Homo sapiens: one gene and its partners. The protein of the gene in region 3 binds, or shares a complex with, the protein of the main gene of each other region. Each region holds a gene or a part of one and is shown on either strand. Other genes may lie near its edges. A codon is read from its position in the direction of its gene.

The links.
Region 1: the proteins of LIMS1 (region 3) and RSU1 are in contact, whole or in part, in a crystal structure (PDB 7LT9), measured with the Homo sapiens proteins. Residues at the interface, in NP_001180417.1 of Homo sapiens: Cys252, Phe253, His254, Cys255, Asn256, Leu267, Asn268, Lys269, Ser279, Thr280, Cys281, Asn282, Thr283, Glu293, Phe294, Asp295, Met296, Lys297, Cys303, Lys306, Phe307, Pro308, Glu310, Leu311, Arg314, Leu315, Lys317, Leu318, Ala319; in NP_036557.1 of Homo sapiens: Asp21 (codon at 4,734), Ser23 (codon at 4,740), Asp24 (codon at 4,743), Gln44, Val46, Ser48, His49, Val67, Asn69, Phe71, Asn72, His90, Asn92, Met95, Glu112, Asp115, Thr117, Tyr118, Arg137, Ala138, Tyr140, Ser142, Asp143, Ile161, Ser163, Arg165, Asp166, Glu184, His186, Gln188.
Region 2: LIMS1 (region 3) and PARVA share a complex: the UniProt entries of both Homo sapiens proteins name them as parts of the heterotrimeric IPP (ILK-PINCH-PARVIN) complex.

The regions. Positions count from the first base shown.
Region 1 is NC_000010.11:16,814,379-16,821,754, reverse strand, and holds the start of RSU1 (ras suppressor protein 1), read left to right. Parts: upstream 1-4,330; 5' UTR 4,331-4,440; intron 4,441-4,670; 5' UTR 4,671-4,673; coding exon 4,674-4,782; intron 4,783-7,376. UniProt on the Homo sapiens protein: Potentially plays a role in the Ras signal transduction pathway. Capable of suppressing v-Ras transformation in vitro.
Region 2 is NC_000011.10:12,527,526-12,534,650, reverse strand, and holds part of PARVA (alpha-parvin), read right to left. Parts: intron 6,803-7,125; coding exon 6,726-6,802; 3' UTR 1-6,725. UniProt on the Homo sapiens protein: Plays a role in sarcomere organization and in smooth muscle cell contraction. Required for normal development of the embryonic cardiovascular system, and for normal septation of the heart outflow tract.
Region 3 is NC_000002.12:108,684,470-108,687,871, reverse strand, and holds the end of LIMS1 (LIM and senescent cell antigen-like-containing domain protein 1), read right to left. Parts: 3' UTR 626-3,402; downstream 1-625. UniProt on the Homo sapiens protein: Within the IPP (ILK-PINCH-PARVIN) complex, binds to F-actin, promoting F-actin bundling, a process required to generate force for actin cytoskeleton reorganization and subsequent dynamic cell adhesion events such as cell spreading and migration.

The DNA of each region.
Region 1 (7,376 bases), on a different chromosome or scaffold from region 3:
AAGCACCACCATTGCCTATTCCTTAACACAATATGTTAAGTTATAAATAAACAATATGGTTTGCCACTTAACAAGAAGTAGAAAGTTCAGTAGCACATCCTTATCTCCAATGCTGCCAGACATGTAACTAAGTGAGGTAGTTATTAGCTTCCTTTTCATAAGAAAATTCAATGCTTTTATAAAGTTTTTCAGTGCCTCTAGAAAAGCGGAAGCCTTTACAAAGGAGATTTGCTTTATGTTAATTATGCAAAATCAAGGGTTATTAACAAAAGACCATGTGAATGAGAGAAGCTGAGGAATGTAACTTCATCTTACTCTAATACTCAAATGGCAGATAATTATTTCTGGACAGAGTATGGAGCCACAGAAATAAAATACTCTAACCTTGAAAATTCAGCTACTCAGGAGGCTGAGGCTGGACAATCACTTGAACCTAGGAGGCGGAGGTTTCAGTGAGCCAACATCGCGCCACTTCACTCCAGTGTGGGTTACAGAATGAGACTCCATCTCAAAAAAACAAACAACAACAACAACAATTCCTGCTCCCTTTTTGTATTATGGATAGACATATCAACTTTATGGGTGACAATTACATTGGAAAGGACAGTGAATGCGATAAGTAACACCATCAAATCCAAAAGGTCTTGATAAGCTACAACAATGGGCCAATTGTAACAGACGAAATGTGACAGATATAAGATCTTCCTCTTTTATCAAAAAATGAATTGCAAAAGTACAGAATACAGGGAAAGTTTAACAATAACATGAAATGACATAGTACTTTTCTGAAAGAAAGATTAACATGATGTCACTGTCAAAAAAATGATGCTTAGAGCATGGACTGCATCATTAGAGTAACGGTATCATTTCCACTCAGAAGGGCATGCTTTTCTAGGAGGCATATTGGAATATCTGGGAAGTGTGTACCTGAAATTGAGGAAAGCATAGTCAATATTATTATGTAATTTTAAAATTAAAAATACAGAAAAAAAGAGACAAAATGAAGCTTTACAAAATCTTCCAGGCTGGGCATCTAGGAAATAAGCAGTGATTTTTTAGTGGGTTAGGGATGGTCAGGCTTGGGAGCATGACATTTTCGTGTATAGCCAAGGGAAGTAGTTATTGAGTAATTCAGTTTTTGAGTAATTCAGCTGGAAGAAGGAGAAAAGAGTCAACTGTACTCTCATTCGTAAGACCCACCGTATATCCTCTGGTTCTGCTTTACATTTAATTCACTTGTTTCCAAATGTTTATTGAGCATCAGCTATGTGATACGTACTCAGCGCACTGAGGATAAAGCAGAGAACAAGACAGCCATACAAGACTATCAGCTGATGTCTCCCAGCTTCACAAAGCACACTTCCCAGCTCCATCTTGCTTGATTTCCTGAGCCAGTCCTGAGGCAAAAACCTTAATATTCTTATCTGGTGAAACATACATTGAGCCAACTTCCCAGATCTAGTGGCCAAGGGATAAGTTTCCTGATTCCAAATTGTGTCACCATGAAGTTTCACTGCTAGCAATCAGGACCCTGGACAGGCTAACCATCATCCTAGCAAATTAATCAAACCTGAGAAGGGGGTGTGGGAACCCTGATTTATAGCTGGTCAGTCAGAAGTGTAGGTGACAGTCAACCTAAAGTCTTGTGGAAATGAACCCTTAACTTGTGGGATTTGACTATAAGTTGAGGTAGACAGTGTCAGAATTAAGTTAAACTGTAAGACACCGAGCTGGTGTCTGCTGGAGAACTGTTTCATGTGTGGGGGATTCTCTGGTGTCAGAAGTGTTGAGCCAGTGGAGAGTAGCAAAAACAGTTTGGTTTTTCCTATCTCAAACAGGAGTGAAAACAAATTCCTATGAAACAGAAGTGAATGGAGGCATGCAGCTCAAAATAACTTCAAGAGAGACATGCAGGAGGGCTGGGACTCTCTGTTCCAGGTGTAACCTGGATGTGGGGCTGGCTGGTGCAGTGTGAGGGGCTAAAACCAAAGTCAGGGAGTTGCCCTAACTGGCACTCACAATCCACCATTTCCCTCCACCTGCAAAGGTAGCCGGGTGATGACCTGCAGGCATAATACTGGGTTCTTGCCTCTGAAGAAATTCGACTATCAGTCTAGGGATCTAGGAGGAAAACAATACAAACAAACAAGAGACCACTCCAGCTATCTAGAAAAACCAGTTCAGATCTTCACACTTGAACTCAAAAGAACAACCAAGAATCAATCACCAGAGAGGGGAAGAATCTTTCTTTTCTAGGGAAAAGACTAGATAAATACACGTAAGAATGGACCCTTGAAGAAACATAATTGAGTGAACAGAAGAGAGGTTTAAAAACTATTATCCTCGGTGATACCTGAGAAGAGAGTACATTCATGAAACAAATGCAGGGTGTTATTATAGGCCGGCAGTCCAATAGGACTGGTGTCCTTAGAAGAAGAGACACCAAGGGTGTGACTGCATAGAGAAAATGCCCTGGAGGGACACCAAGAGAAGACAGTCGTCCACGAGGCAGGGGAGAGGCCACAGGATAAATCAAATCTGCTGGCACCTTGATCTAGAACTTCCAGGATTGTGAGAAATTTCTGTTGTTTAAGCCATCCAGGCTGTGGTATATTGTTACGACAGCCCTAGCCGACTAACACAGGTACTGTATGTCTTCAGCCTACCTAGGCAAGATTCACTATTAGAAATTGATAGAATAAGAAAAATTCTGATTGCTTCAAAACAGGACTTTTGCTTTAAAAGAGTTAATGATTCAAGAAATAAATGTATTAGGAGATTACCTACTAATACGTATTGATGAAATTATGAAGTTAGAAAATCATCAGTGGATGCTAAAACTTGTGGGTAAAAATTAGATGAGGAATGGGGTGTAATCAAGTAGCACCTCCCCCCAGCATTATTTTTAATCATAAAGAAAAAAATAGTAACTTTATGGTGAAGAAACCTGGCAGACACTACCTTATTTAAGTGAACATCACCTATACTGGGAGAAACCGATGCCATCTGTACCTTGATATCATGCACTGGAAAAGACACATCGCTTTAGTGGTGTTTCTCCAAAAATTCATAACCTGAAAGGGAACATCAAACTTACTTTGAAGGATATTCCACACAATACCTGGTCTGTATTCTTAAATAATGTCTAGTTCAATAAACATAAAAGCCAAGGACGGTTCCAGATCAAAGAAGACTAATGGAGGAATAACTCTTTCATCTGGAATGTTTTTTAAGCAAGAAATACCTGCTTTCGAATTTAAGAGTGCAGATCCTTTTTTTATCCAATTGGTTCGGAGATATAATTACATTATTTTACCACATCTCCTTAAGGCTTTGATCCCTGCTACAATCTACAATATATAAATGCATATGTGTGGCATCCGTCTTATCATCAATTTAGGTGACCAGTAGAAGAAAAGTGCCTGGTGCCAATTTTTATTCCATAGTATAAAATAGTCTCTCAGGACAGGGTTTTTGGTGAGAGAAGCACAGGATGTTGCTGGGTGACTGAGACTGGGTCAGGAAATAGGGAGGCAGAGGGCAACAGTTTCTCTAGAATTTAAAATTTGGTTGCTTTTGGAAGAGAAAGCAAGAGATTCCTGGAAGCCAGAACGTCATGTTTCACAAATGTAAAAGTCCTAGTTGGGAAAGACACATCGCTTTAGTGGTGTTTTCAAATGACTTTTAAAATAGTAGGGTTTTACTTGTAGGTTCTAGCTACAAGTAAAAAGGCTAAAAGCCAGCCTTAGAAACCTGTCAAAAAAGATTTCCAGCAGGGCGCTGGGGAAACGCAGACCGCGCCGGAATCCCCGCCTGGAGAAGCTCTTAATAGGGCGGGAAACTGCGTGCCCCACAAGGTCCCTCAGAGGCACATTGTGGAGACGGGCTCAGGGTAGCAACTTCTGGCGAGTGGAGCGGCTATTACACAAGCGAAACATTCGGAAGCAATTTACTTCCAGCTTTCGCAACACCCACCCTGAGCCACCACCCTCCCTTACACAGTCACGCCACAAACTTCCCCACTTCCGCCCACAGCCCTCTGGGCTTCGACCCATCAACTGAGCTTGCGCCAAGTCTACTGCGCACGCGCCAACTTCGGCCCAATCAGCGTCCCAAACCGTGGGGTGGACGCCACCGGGATAAACTATCCTCAGCGTGGGGCGGGGTCTCGAAGCCGAATAACGAACGTGATTAGCCAGCCTCTTCCACAGACTTTTAAGGGCGGAGCCTGGCCCTGGAGACACGTCTGGAGAGCTGTTCTCCTAATATGGGTAGGGTCGGGCGTGGAGCTGGCAGCGGCGCTGTGTGCGCCTGCGCGGGGCGCCGAGACAGGGCGTGTTCGCTGTTCAGTGCCGGTGTTGCAGGGAGTGAGGGCAGCTGGAGTGCGTTCTGCCGAAGCTTGTGGTTGCACGCCCATCGTCTTAGGGGCTACCTTCCGTGGTGAGTGTGTGCGGTGTTGCACTTGGGGTTGCTTCTCGCTGCGTGGCCGCAGCGGGGCTGAACCCTTCCCACTCCATCCCCTCCCCGCACCCGGACCAGCCCCTGGGACGCCCTCGGACGCCCACCCGCTCCAACCCTGGGGAAGCCTCAGAGTGGCAGCGAAGGCCTCTTGCCTTTCCGCCTCTGCGCTTGCTGTCATCGCCCACGTGCTTTGTTGTTGTTCGGTGCAGACCATGTCCAAGTCTCTGAAGAAGTTGGTGGAGGAGAGCCGGGAGAAGAACCAGCCCGAGGTGGACATGAGTGACCGGGGCATCTCCAACATGCTGGATGTCAACGGCCTCTGTGAGTTCTCGGGCAGGACTCTCCCGTGGATGAGCTGGAAGGCTTTCTAAGTTTGCCAATTCACTGCTGGTCCTGCTGTGAGCGATTGTACTGGTTTAGACCCCAGCCCCTGCTTGTAAACCTCACTTGTCAGGGGCTTCGCGCAGAGGGTTTGCAGTAGGATTTGTTCTGTTCCACCTGGAAAACGATCCTGAGAGTCCACGATGAGAATCACACAGACAGCTGTGCCTCATCGGTTGTCTCTGCTGTATGGCATTGAGGTGGATTTTCCACAGTTTGCTTAATAGTCACTTTAATTATAAATTGAAAATTAATTTTGAGTCCTTCTTCCTGTCTCCTAATACAGTCTTTGTCCATGAACAAATGACACAGAAAAGTTCCATGGTTAATAAGCATTCTTGTGCCTGGAGCGTTTTAAGCATTTCTTGAATCTTTACATTCTTCTGAGTATTTATTCTCCGAACTTGGTTCAGGCTTTTGTCACCTCCTCATGCTGTGGTGAAATCCTCCTAACTTGCCCTCTTGCCTTCAGTTTCACTGCCCAGTTTAATCACTGGGTCACTTTCAGTGTCATTTTCCTGTAACCCCTGTCTATGGTGTTACCCTCTCCCTTAAAACCAGGGATTGCAGATTCACATGCCTCCAAGTGAGGGCGGTCAGGGGCGGTTATGAACTAGGTGATAGGTGTCCCACTTGAAGGGGCCAGCTGCTGCACCTGCTACTCAGACACATGTCACCATAGGAATGTTGGCCCAATGTGCCAGATTATTTTCTTAAAGGAACCAAGATTCTATATTTTTATGTGAAATTTGCTAATTTTTAGATGTTGGCTACTAATTCTAATATTTGAAAAACCTGTGATAAGTGAGCTAAAGCAGTTCTTCAGGCTGACGTGGCTTTGGTTTAAACCCTCTCCGCACTTCTCCAGGTTGTCCATTATCGACGGTAATGCTCCAGGTTTCTTGGCGTGATGTACAAGGCCTTTCTGAATCTGAACACAACCTTACCCTTCCATGCAGCTGGCATTCCAGCCATTCTGAACCTGTTGCCCTTCCTGGACCAGAGCCTACTCGTTCAGATCTTGGTGCCTTTACAAATTCTGTTTTCCCTCTTTCTCAGTCGTTTGCACCTGAAATCCTTTTACTTCTAAGAGTCAGCTTAGACATCACCACCTGTGTAAAACCTTATCCGTCTGCACCAGGCTAACATATCCCTTCCCTCCTCTGTGAAGGTGGTCGTGTGTATTGCTTTGTGACTCCTCTCACATAGGATTGTACTGATTTTTTTCTTTTTTAATCTAGAAGTCTCTCTTCTCTGCTGGGACATTGGGAAGACAAAAGCTGTGCAATATTCATGCTTGCATTTTTTTAATAATAGTGCCTGGAGCACAGTAGATGCTCAAAAATAGTTGAGGAATGAAGAAAATGAAAGAATGATGGATTAGGCCTGTGAGTTTGGGATATCAACTCCAGGATGTGACAAGAGAGAAGAAGGGAGATGTTCAGGAGACCCTGAAAGGCGATGGATAGCCATTTAGGCATGGAGAGAACTGCAGAGTCAGGTTTACTGTGAATTCACGGTTTTCACGGTTCGAAAACCTGCCTGGGACAGAGGTTGGAGTTGATGCTATTGATATGTCTTGGCAGAAGGAAAAGGGAGGAAACGTAGATTTGCGTTTCGTAGGCTTTATGAAAATACGTGCCATTAAACTTAGGTTGTGTACTAGTTAGCCTCTCAGGCTTGGTGTGTGTTGGTCTCTTGCATTCCGTAAGGGTCCTTGCTGTCAGCAACTGAGCAGATGCCTCTGGAATTGGATATCTGAGTTTGCCCCTTGCTGCGCCTGCCCGGCTCTGCCATGACCATGGTCATTATTGGGGGCACTGTTGATACAGAGGAGAAAGAGAAGGGGATAGGGAAGATGATGCATAGCGGGAACCTTGGCCCCATGGCCTTCCTCCCTACAGCACTCATTCTCACCAGGTAGAAGAGAGGCTGCTTTCAGCAGAGGAGCTTTGTACCCTTCGGCTTTTGAAGAGGAGACTTTATGTAATATTTATAAATGGGGAGAATGGCTTAGCTATTTCGGTTCAGCTCCGTTATCTCTTTGAAGCCTTGGCTTTTATTAAGGAAGAAAAGCCACTTGCTTCCTGAAATATATTTCCGGTATAACATTGGGTGGTGAAAAGCGAGATCATTCTTAAATTTTCCTAAAGAAGTAGCTAACAACGGATAATAGTACTTTTTGGGAAGTTGGGTGGAAGTGAATTTGGAGATTTGCAGATTCCATCTCCTCTGGCTTCTGTAGCATTGAGCCAAGGCTGCTCTCTGCAAACTCCCTGACCTCAGGACTTCTCGGAGCCTAGGGGGTTCCAGGATGCTCTTCGAAGCCTCCACCAGGGCTCACTTCTCAGCAGTGCACACACACTGACACAGTGCTTAATATATACAAGTATTAAAATACTTCACATGGCTACATTAATTATAAGTGTAAGAATTTTTTTTTCTTTTTTTTTTTTTTTTTCCTGAAAACAGGGTCTCGCTCTGTCACCCAGGCTGGAATGCAGTGGTGCAGTCACAGCTCCCTGGGGCCTCAC
Region 2 (7,125 bases), on a different chromosome or scaffold from region 3:
TTAAGCGGTTGCCTTAATGACATTTGTGTGTCTTGGAATGACAGCCTGTGCTAACAAATTGCATCTCAAGATGTGAAAACATGAAGATCAATAAAAAGAAATGAAAAGTCTGCTTCATTGATAAAACATCATTTATCTTAATAATGGGTACTTCTCTGAATTTCCCAAGTGCCCTTCCAAATGCCAGTATCAAAGCCAGTGCCCACATGTGTGTAGAAAGTTCAGGAGGGTTCAGGGGAGTTGAGGCAGGAACACAGGCTGCTCAGCCCAGGGGGTCCACCGAGGAGAAGCATCATTCTGGGCCAGTCACCCACTGGACTGGTTTCCAACCAAGGAGATTTCAAGCGGGGATTTCCAAGCATATTTCTGGAATTTCAAAACTTCCAGTGAAAATAATATACAATTGACCCTTGAACAACAATGATTTGAACTGGGCAGGTCCACTTGTTCATGGATTTTTGTTTTGTTTTGTTTTGTTTTTTTGAGACGCAGTCTTGCTCTGTTGCCCAGGCTTGAGTGCAGTGATGCGATCTCAGCTCATTGCAACCTCTGCCTCCTGGGTTCAAGCAATACTTCTGCCTCAGCCCCCTGAGTAGCTGGGATTACAGGCACGCACCACCACACCTGGCTAATTTTTTGTATTTTTAGTACAGACGGGGTTTCACCATATTAGCCAGGATAGTCTCAATCTCCTGACCTTGTGATCTGTCCGTCTCGGCCTCCCAAAGTGCTGGGATTACAGGTGTGAGCCACCGTGCTCGGCCCATGGATTTTTTTTCTGCCTCTGCCACCCCTCAGACAGCAAGACCAACCCCTACTCCTCCTCCTCCTCCTCCTCCTCCGCCTACTCAATGTGATGACCATGAGGATGAGGACTTTATGATGACCTGCTTTCACTTAATAGTAAATATATTTTCTCTTGCTTATGTTTTTCTTAGTAACATTTTTTCTCTAGCTTACCGTATGGTAAGGATATAGTATATAATGCACATAACATACTAGCTATGTGTTAATTGACCGTGTTCAGTAAGGCTATTAGTATTATAGTTACGTTTTGGGGGAGTCAAGTTACATGCAAATTTTCAGCTGCTCAGGGGTCGGTGCCCATATCATTCAAGGATCAACCGTACTTTCATATGAAAGTTGTTTCACCAAACATTGTGAAACATTAAGTGACCCCCTTTTGGTAGATTTTATATAATGTGGTGGGCATTGGAGCAGTTATAGTTCATGCTGATTAGTATGAATTTTGAAAATGTATTATTCCACATCCAGGAGGCTTGCTTATAGTTTGTCAAGCCCACAGGCTGAATGGTGGGATTCCTGCTCCTGCCGTTGGTAAAACAGGAGTCCTCCTCCGAGGTGAGAGGGCTGGAAGCACTGGTCTCCATGGATCAGCGTTCTGGCCTGGTAGGCCCCTTATTTCATTCCCTCCACACATGCAGCCTCGTCCACTCTGTCCAGTTCCCCTAGCTCTTCTCAGGACACATTGTGGAGAGGCTGGGGGTAGTCCAGGAGTTCCTGTCCATCAGCAGCAGCAGGTTAGGAGGAGCTATGGGATGCCCAGAGGTTGCTAAGACCAGATTGGTGTTGGGGTGGGCAGAGGTCTGATCTCCTCTCCTGGTCTCCTCCGCTCCCCAGCCAGGACCATGGTATGACATGAGAAAGGCAACCCCAGACTCCATATTGCTGACGTAGCTTTCCCCAGAGTTTTCCTACACAGTGGGACATTTAAAAAGGTAGATGGCAACCTGTTTTTCAAAGGAGAAAAATCAGCACTCCCGATGCCTGCGATCGGATCCGTCTTCTCCCTCATTCTGTGTCCTCTAGCCATGCTGGCTTTCCGCACTCCTCTGGGGAGCCAGGTCTTCTTGTCTGGGGATCCTCCTCCGTGGTGCGCCCTGGAGTGGCAGGCTTCTCATTGGAGTAGCTCCACGACTGAGGGATTACTTTAAAATGCCACTTTGCCGGAGACTTCTCATGACCTTAAATCTACATTAGAACTCTTTCATAGATTTTAGTACTTCTCCATCGCGACAGTCACAATTTGTAACTAACGTCGATTCATAGTTATTTTTCATCTGTCTCCCCTGCTAGCTATAATCTCTCACTCACCCTTGGACATGCTGCACTCAACACATACTTGCCGAATATATGACTAAATGAAGTCCTGAGTTCAGAGTACTCATCCTAGAAATTTCTCAGGGGACAGATACATCCTGTGATCAAACAAGATTGGGACCCATCGTACCCCGTCTTCCCTTAGAAAGTCCTAATACGCATTATGTAGGGGACTCTGAGGTGCGCTCCAACTAGAAAACAAAAAGCGTCAGTAAGCTAACTTTCTTCACCTCATGTTTCCTAAACATATTTAAACGTGACTTTTTTTTTCATCTAACATTTACTAATATCCTGTAGAATTTATTTTTAAGAGATGCTTTCTTGCAGGATCCTACTGGGAAGCCTGAGGTTCTCAAGGTCATCAGGCTTGGTTTGGGGGCAGCACCCTCATGGCTGCATTGCTGTTGTCATGAACACGTGAACACGCATGCACACGTTCACATATGCGACCACCACTGTAGTAAAGCATGGGCTATAAGCAGAGTTTGGAGCTAGCCTGGGGTTACAGTTTTCAGGGAGCAGAGAGTAAAAACACAGTCGAAACTCTGGTATTTGTAAATGTAGCCTTTGTAGTTAGGATTGTGAGTAACTCATACTGACTTTTCTTTTGGTAAGACCCAAATCTGCAAGTATTTGGGAAGCTGATGTGTGGAGGCAGGTCCCATAGGTGGTGAGTCAGTCTACCTACCCTACCCGGCCTTGCAGCTTAATGCAGCTCTCTTGTTTTCAGCAGCTGCAGCAATTCTCTTGGATTTTCCAATAGAGTTAAGCAAATTTTTGGGGGAAATGACACGCAATCTTGGAATTAGTGAAGATTTCAGGACATATCCCTCTTGCCTATCTAGGATGTATTATAAAGGTAAGATTCCTGAGGTGGAGCTCTATTAAAGGCAGCGGATCTCAAATTAGTTTTGATCAGCCTCCACTTAGGCACGGCAAAACTGTTTCACCTACCGACTCCATCTAGTCTTATTTTCCAGTGGAAAAATAAATGAGTGATAATTTGTGGGGAGTGGATTATGTATACATTTGTTCTAGCACTGGACTATGGATGATTCCTATTTGAACCACAATGTATACATGTCTCAGAGTCTAGTTATTGAAAAATTACAGCTCCAGAATACTGTTGATGCAAATAAGCTTCAAGTATACTCTGTAGGGTTAACCAAGCAACCCACAACAAAACAAACTGATGATAATGCAAGCTAACAGTAATTCATAATTAAAAAGCACCAATAGCAGCAATTGAAAATTGCAACCAACTCGAGGCAACACTGATGATGTGCTGATAAAGAAGCCTTCTCCCAGATCGGGAAATGTCATCTCTGTGCCTGCACATGTGAAACTGGAGCCTTCTAATATAGCAGGCGAGCACTGCATTGCTGGCAGCTAGACTTTATAGTACAGTATTATAGCGTATGTAGTAACCTTTGTGATGCTTAGTGGATTACAAATTCGTAGTCCTGGTAATATATAAAAATGAAACCTTCATCAATCTGCATACAATTCACCATAAGGTTCCAAAAGAGGACTTAAAAACATTCGGTTCGAGGCACATGAGGATGCCTCTGATAATGTGCCCCAGCCTCTGGTCCTGCACCCCATAGGTTTTAGACTCTACTTTTGAAATCATTGTCTAGGCAGCCTTTCCTCCTTCGGCTAGGGCTTTTTTCCTTTCCTAGCTCGAGCAGACTGGAGATACGCATTTGGATTTATGAAGTGCTCAGATTGTTATTTTAAAATGTGAAAGGAGTTCTTTTTAATACCCAGGGTAATACAATATCCAAGATATAACATTAAGTGATAAAAAACAAAGTGTATGACAGTATAGATGACATCCTACTTATATTTTTTGAAGCCCGCAGATTTTATATGTATGTTTGTGCTTTACATGCCTAGAGTATCTCTGGCAGTGTGTGTAAGAAATGGATCAAAACAGTTGCCTCCAGGGAGAGGTAATGGGTGCCGGAGGAGAGAGGGAGGCTTAGGTTTTCCACTAGATACCTATTTGCGCTTTTTAAATTTTGCACCATGTATGTATTAAGCATTAAAAATAACTGAGTTTAAATTAACAGAAAAGAAAAGAAAACCCAGTGAGCCTATGAAGTGTTGATTCTCATTTTGGTTTCTTTTTTCTTTTTTTTAAAGATGAAGATTAAGTTTGTTTTATTTATTCTTGATTCCTCTTTTGCCTTTCAAAGTCATGGTCATATATTAAGTAGGAGATTCCAGGTTCTAAAGTAAAATATCGAACTGAGATGACAGCATTAGAAAACCAGGCCCAGGACCTGGGATTCTGGGCTGAGACAAAGAACTCAATCCCAAAACACAATTTTCTGATAAATTAGAACTGTTATTTAAAAACTTTCCTAGTGTTCCAATGTATTTTCATACTGTATATATGTAAAATACAAAAGGAGCACTCTTAGTAAGGATACTTGTACATTTGTAACTTGAATATAAGAAAAAGAGACCAAAAAAGAGACAAAATTCATAAAGCAAAGCATGTTTAAATGAATGCATTCCTCTTACTTCATCCTGCTTCAGTATTGCTCAAGAAAATGAAGCAATTATTTATCTTGATTTGCTACCAGGAATTTTTTTAAAAGCAAAAGAAATATTACACTATTTAGTGTTTCCTAATAAAAAATAAAATTTCACTAATTATGTAAAAAAGAATTGTATTCTTTTACATAGATCAACACAAAACAGTACATTGCCTTTGTATGTTAAATGCTCATTATGCTGAGTGACAATTCTAAGAGCAAAGACATGTAGTTATCTAAATTTTATGGGTCCTCAATTACTGCAGATAGACAGTACAGTAAGAGACAGTACAGTAAGAAATAAAAAGGCTGAAAGGAATGTTTTGGACATTATAGGAGGCCTAACTTTGGGTGGTGTAGATACAGATCAAAATGAATTCTCAAACCAGAGATGGGCTTTGTGGAATGGGCCTAAAGTAGTGACAAGGTAGTCACAGACTTCTGGAGGAGGGTACTTGGGCTGGTGTCTACCTGGCATATTTAGGAACATTCCATAACGAGATGTAATATCAGCACAATTGATTATTTAGCCCAAGGTCTCAGTCAGTTGATGGCTACAAGTGTTAAGTACCACAAGCCCCACCTCTATCTCTGTATGTTTAGAGTGCAAATATTTTCCCCATGCTTCTCGTCCCCTAGTCACTGCCCACCCCCCTCCGCCCTTCCCTATTCTTACAGGACTTAGCAGGCTGGCACACTAGAGCTCTGTCTTTCAAAGTCAAGTTCACATAGAGGAGATACAAGTAACCACAAGCCCTTGAGTAACCCACGCAAAGAAACTGCTTGGCTTTGGTCTAAATGACTTACATTTTTCCTCGCTTGAATTAGCCGGTAATTACATGTGGGCAGACTTAGCCAGAATAGTCTAAATGATCAATTAGAAGGCAAAAAGAAGTTCCTTTCTTTAAAGTTCAAGGGTCCCTGTTGAAGAGCCCTACTTCCAAAGTGATGCTCACATGGGCCCGTGCCCAGCTCTCTGCGGTGCCTGAGCATATTGTACATTTGCTTAACGATAATGAATTTAGTACTTATTTTGCAGGAAAATATAGGGCATTTCCATTACATGCAATCAAGCAAAAAGGCTGCAAAATGTGCCACTCCATTAATTCTAAACAAAATCCTTCCCAAATGTCACCCTGAAACCAAAGTACAGAGTTATTATAAATCTGAAGGAATTAAGAGTAATTTTCATTTGTACAAAGGATGTGAGGGACATGACTCCTGCCACACACACACTATTAATTGGGTTAAATCCAATTTGCCAATTTCAGTGTGAATCACTAAGCTCTGACCTAGCTTGCCCCAGTGGTGAGATCAGTGGGTTCTCGTGTTTTTGGCTCAGGTGTACATGTGCACGTGCTCAGATGTGCACACACATACACAACTTTAGAACATGCAAAGAACATAATGTAATTGGCTTGTTATAAACATGTTGTACTGTCTACTATTGAGGAATGCATACTTAGCTAAAAAGAAAAGCAAAACCTTGATGATTGGACTCAGAATAGTGGTTACCTTTAGGGAGAAGGGAGAGGTTATGTTCAAAGAGGAAAAAAATTCCAACTTCTGGCAAGTCATTTAACCTCCAAGCCTTAGTTTCCTCATCTGTAAAAGGGGAATGAAACACCTACGTCAATGGGAGTCCTGAAGATTAATGGCCTTGAGTATATCAGAGCAGAGCACTTAGTGTGGGGCCTGACACACAGTTAGCATCCTTTGAATGGTAACTAGGATCTTTATTTTCATCTTGTGGGGACTCTTTTGCCTAAGCTGGTTCCCAAATCATGGAGGGAAATCTGGACCTGGCACCGGGAAGGGAACAACCTTCCCAACCTTCATTGCTAGGTTGGTCCCCAGCGCCTGGGAGGGATGGGTCAGCCCACTGAGTTATTGATGATTTCCTTCCTAATTTCAGTTTCCACTATCTCTGGGTTGCAGCTGGACTTGTGGGAGAGCACAGTGCAAGAGACAGGAATAAGCAGGGTAAGGCAGTTCGGAGGAGGGTCCAGTACGCCAACAGCAAGAACTCTTGGGCAGTGGTGGGCCCAGGGCAGCCCCTCACTCCACGTTACGGTACTTGGTGAAGAGGTTGTACAACACTCGTAGTGTAGATTTCAGGTCACAGTTGACTATGTCTGCGTAGAAAACAAAAAACACCAATTGTTTCCATGGGGCCACATGTTCCAAAGCTGGCATACACTGCCCCTCCCTTCCACCCACCACCCAATCCCATGTACCCAGCATGTTCGGGGCAGATGGGTAGAGTGGGCAGCGAGAATTCAGAGCAGGGGGCAGTGAGGGTAGAGGTGCTGGGGCACAGCATCTCCAGATAAGAAGGCCTGACCCTCCCCACAATCCCCACCTGTCCCAGGGGCTCTTTGCCCACTGCCTCCAACCTCCATCATAGAACCAACCATGGGTGGTGAAAAGGAGGGGAAGGCCTGGGGCTGCAGTGGAA
Region 3 (3,402 bases):
TTAACCCAAGCCTCCTCCACCCCACTATATTAGCCCAAGCCTAGAGTATCAGATCTGGATATTTGGGTAAAGATGCAGACAAATTTTGAGTTGAAAAAGAAAGAACTTAATTGCACCATTGCACTCCAGCTGAGGGCAGGGCACAGTGGCTCATTGCCTGTAATCCCAGCACACCATTGCACTGCAACCTCTGCCCCCTGGATTCAAGTGATTCTACTGCCTCAGCCTCCCAAGTAGCTGGGACTACAGGTGCACACCACCACGCCCTATTAATTTTTGTATTTTTAATAGAGATGAGGTTTCACTGTGTTGGCCAGGCTGGTCTCAAACTCCTGACCTCAAGTGATCCACTGGCCTCGGCCTCCCAAAGTGCTGGGATTACAGGTGTGAGCCACTGTGCCTGGACTGTATCTCCTTCTTAATAATAATAATAATTAAAAAACCCAGCATTTACATTGAGTAGAGGGAAGACTACACCATTGTTCTAGATGGTTCAAAATTTGGCTTATCTATAGTAACCAGGTCATTTTATTCATTTACTTGTTTCTATTATATATTCATGAATACTTCAATTTTCATATGTATTTCACATATATACCATTCAAAATAAACAATATACAACAGGTTATTGTTAACAATTATAAACATTTATTAAGCACCAAGAATATACTGTGGTGGTTGCTATATGAAAACATAATTACCAATATAGTATCCCTGCCATTGAGCTTACAATCTAAAACGAAATACAAGGCTATGAGCCTATCTAAAAACTTCCTTAACTTAGAAATGGCTACTTTGGCAAATGAGTGAGGCAAAATGACCTATTATTCAGGTGCAGTGCTAATAAGGCTTTGAATATCATCCAAAGAATGTTTTACTTGTACCCATTGTTCCTGATTATGTTACACTTGCTAAGAAAAACAGTACTTAGAATTTTGGCATGAACAATGAATTATTTCAAATTGTCTTGTAGGACTTTAAACAAAGAGATGCTTACTGGCCTAAGTTTTCCAGCAGCCAGGGAAAGCCCTATTAAAAATATTATGAACTAGACCAAGTTTCTCTTTTAATCCACTTACACTTTTTTTTTTTTTTTGAGACGGAGTCTTGCTCTGTCGCCCAGGCTGGAGTGCAGTGGTGCAATCTCGGCTCACTGCAAGCTCCGCCTCCTGGGTTCAAGCCATTCTCCTACCTCAGCCTCCCGAGTAGCTGGGACTACAAGCGCCCGCCACCACGCCTGGCTAATGTTTTTTTTTGTATTTTTAGTAGAGACGGGGTTTCACCTTGTTAGCCAGGATAGTCTGGATCTCCTGACCTCGTGATCCGCCCCCCTCGGCCTCCCAAAGTGCTGGGATTACAGGCATGAGCCACCACGCCCGGCCCACTTACACTTTTTAAACTTCTTCCTCTTCTCCTATACCTAAGGGCTCCAATGATACTACTTATCAGGGAAGAAAGTACTGTATCTAGATAAACTACCCTTAAGTATTACAGGCTTAGCAAGTTGAATTTCTAGAAAATACTCATTCATAATTTATTTATTTATTTTTTTTGAGACAGAGTCTTGCTCTGTTGCCCAGGCTGGAGTGCAGTGGCGTGATCTTGGCTCACTGCAAGCTCTGCCTCCCGGGTTCCCACCATTCTCCTGCCTCAGCCTCCCGAGTAGCTGGGACTGCAGGTGCCCGCCACCACGCCCGGCTAATTTTTTTGTAGTAGAGATGGGGTTTCAGTGGTAGCCAGGATGGTCTTGATCTCCTGACCTCGTGATCCACCTGCCTCGACCTCCCAAAGTGCTGGGATTACAGGTGTGAGGCACCGTGCCTGTCCACTAATTCATATTTTAAAAGAGGACTGAGCAAAGACAGCAATGGAACCTCTGGCTGCAGGAGATGCCTGGGTATGCCTGATATGTAAACAAACACAAGCAGTCGAGTTCAGGCCATGCATCTTCAAAGTGACGAAGAATATATGTAAATGCTTGTTTTTCTCCTCCATATTTCTCGTGTAGAGGTATATGAGAATTTAGCATCAAGACGCTATACTGCAAACCCTGTTCTGTGTTGCCTATATTCATAGCATAATATTTAATAAATACTCCCAAGGTTGTCATTGCTGGTCACATATTAGCTGACAAAGGCACACTGAAGGGACTTTGATTCTTACTGTAAAATGCAAAGATTGTTTTAAACTACTCAACATATACAATCTTAAACTATGTGATGATTATTCTCGATCATTTATGATAATTTCAATTCTAAAAGATTACTAAAAAAAATTGGTTGTAGGGTATCTGAAAACAAAAATAGAATGTACTCCATAAAGTACATGCACAGAATTTTTAAAAATGCAGGCATACAAATATTTAATGGCAGAGTGGTAATAACCTGAGACTTTTTAAAAATGGCAAAACAATATTTCAGCAATTTTTGGAAAAAAAACCCAAATATTTTCCCTAAGAAGTCTCTCTTGGCAACTTTCTTTTTAAGCAACAAAGCAGCAGCAACATTTTTAAATGTTCATAAAGCTCGCTTTCCATTAACAAGTTTATTAAGGAAGAGTGGTCCTGAAACTTCAGGATAAAACTTTTGATAAAAATAGAATCACTAATTTTGACCTAAAACAGACACTAAAACACCCCTCCTTCCAATTTAAGAGTGTCATTTATACCTCCTACTTACAGTAAATAAATCAAATTAATTATAAGATTTCAAATGGAAAATCTGAAACACATATCAACATCATTTTCTTCTAATAAGATAACAGAAATTAACTTCAATGGATTTCCCCAAAAAGAGAATAGTTTCTAAAAACTTAATTACAGCTGTGGTAAATGAATCTGGGTTTACCAATCTCAGATCTCAATGCACTTAGTTTTAGTTGGTATTCTGTGAGATGGCTAGAATTCCTGATTTAAGTATGTAGTATGTATGTTTTTAAGGCAAGGCAAGTTTGAGTATGTATAAAGCATAGATATTAGCATGGTTATAAAGGCAATATGACCGACATACACATTCAGTTTTCTGAAGCAATATATTCCAAGCTACATACAATTTAATTTCATGTCCTATTCTAAGACTACATGCTTAACATTAAGCTTAGAAACATAATTGCTGTAATACATTAAAAATACTTCATTTTCCAATATTGTAAAGTATATTTCCAAATACCTGGTATAAATTTTTTTTTGCACAAAAATTTAAAGGACATCCTACAGCTAGCTATTACTACTGCGTTAAGTAATCATTTGAAGGAAGAATTCACAAGGAGAGCAGGTTATAAAACTAAGCATAATAATTATTGCATTTAACTAAAAAAAATCAAGTAGTTCTGAATTACACTTGTTTTTTGTCTTAGTAATGTGCATATTCACTTTCTAGCTACTAGTTTGATAAATATACTAAG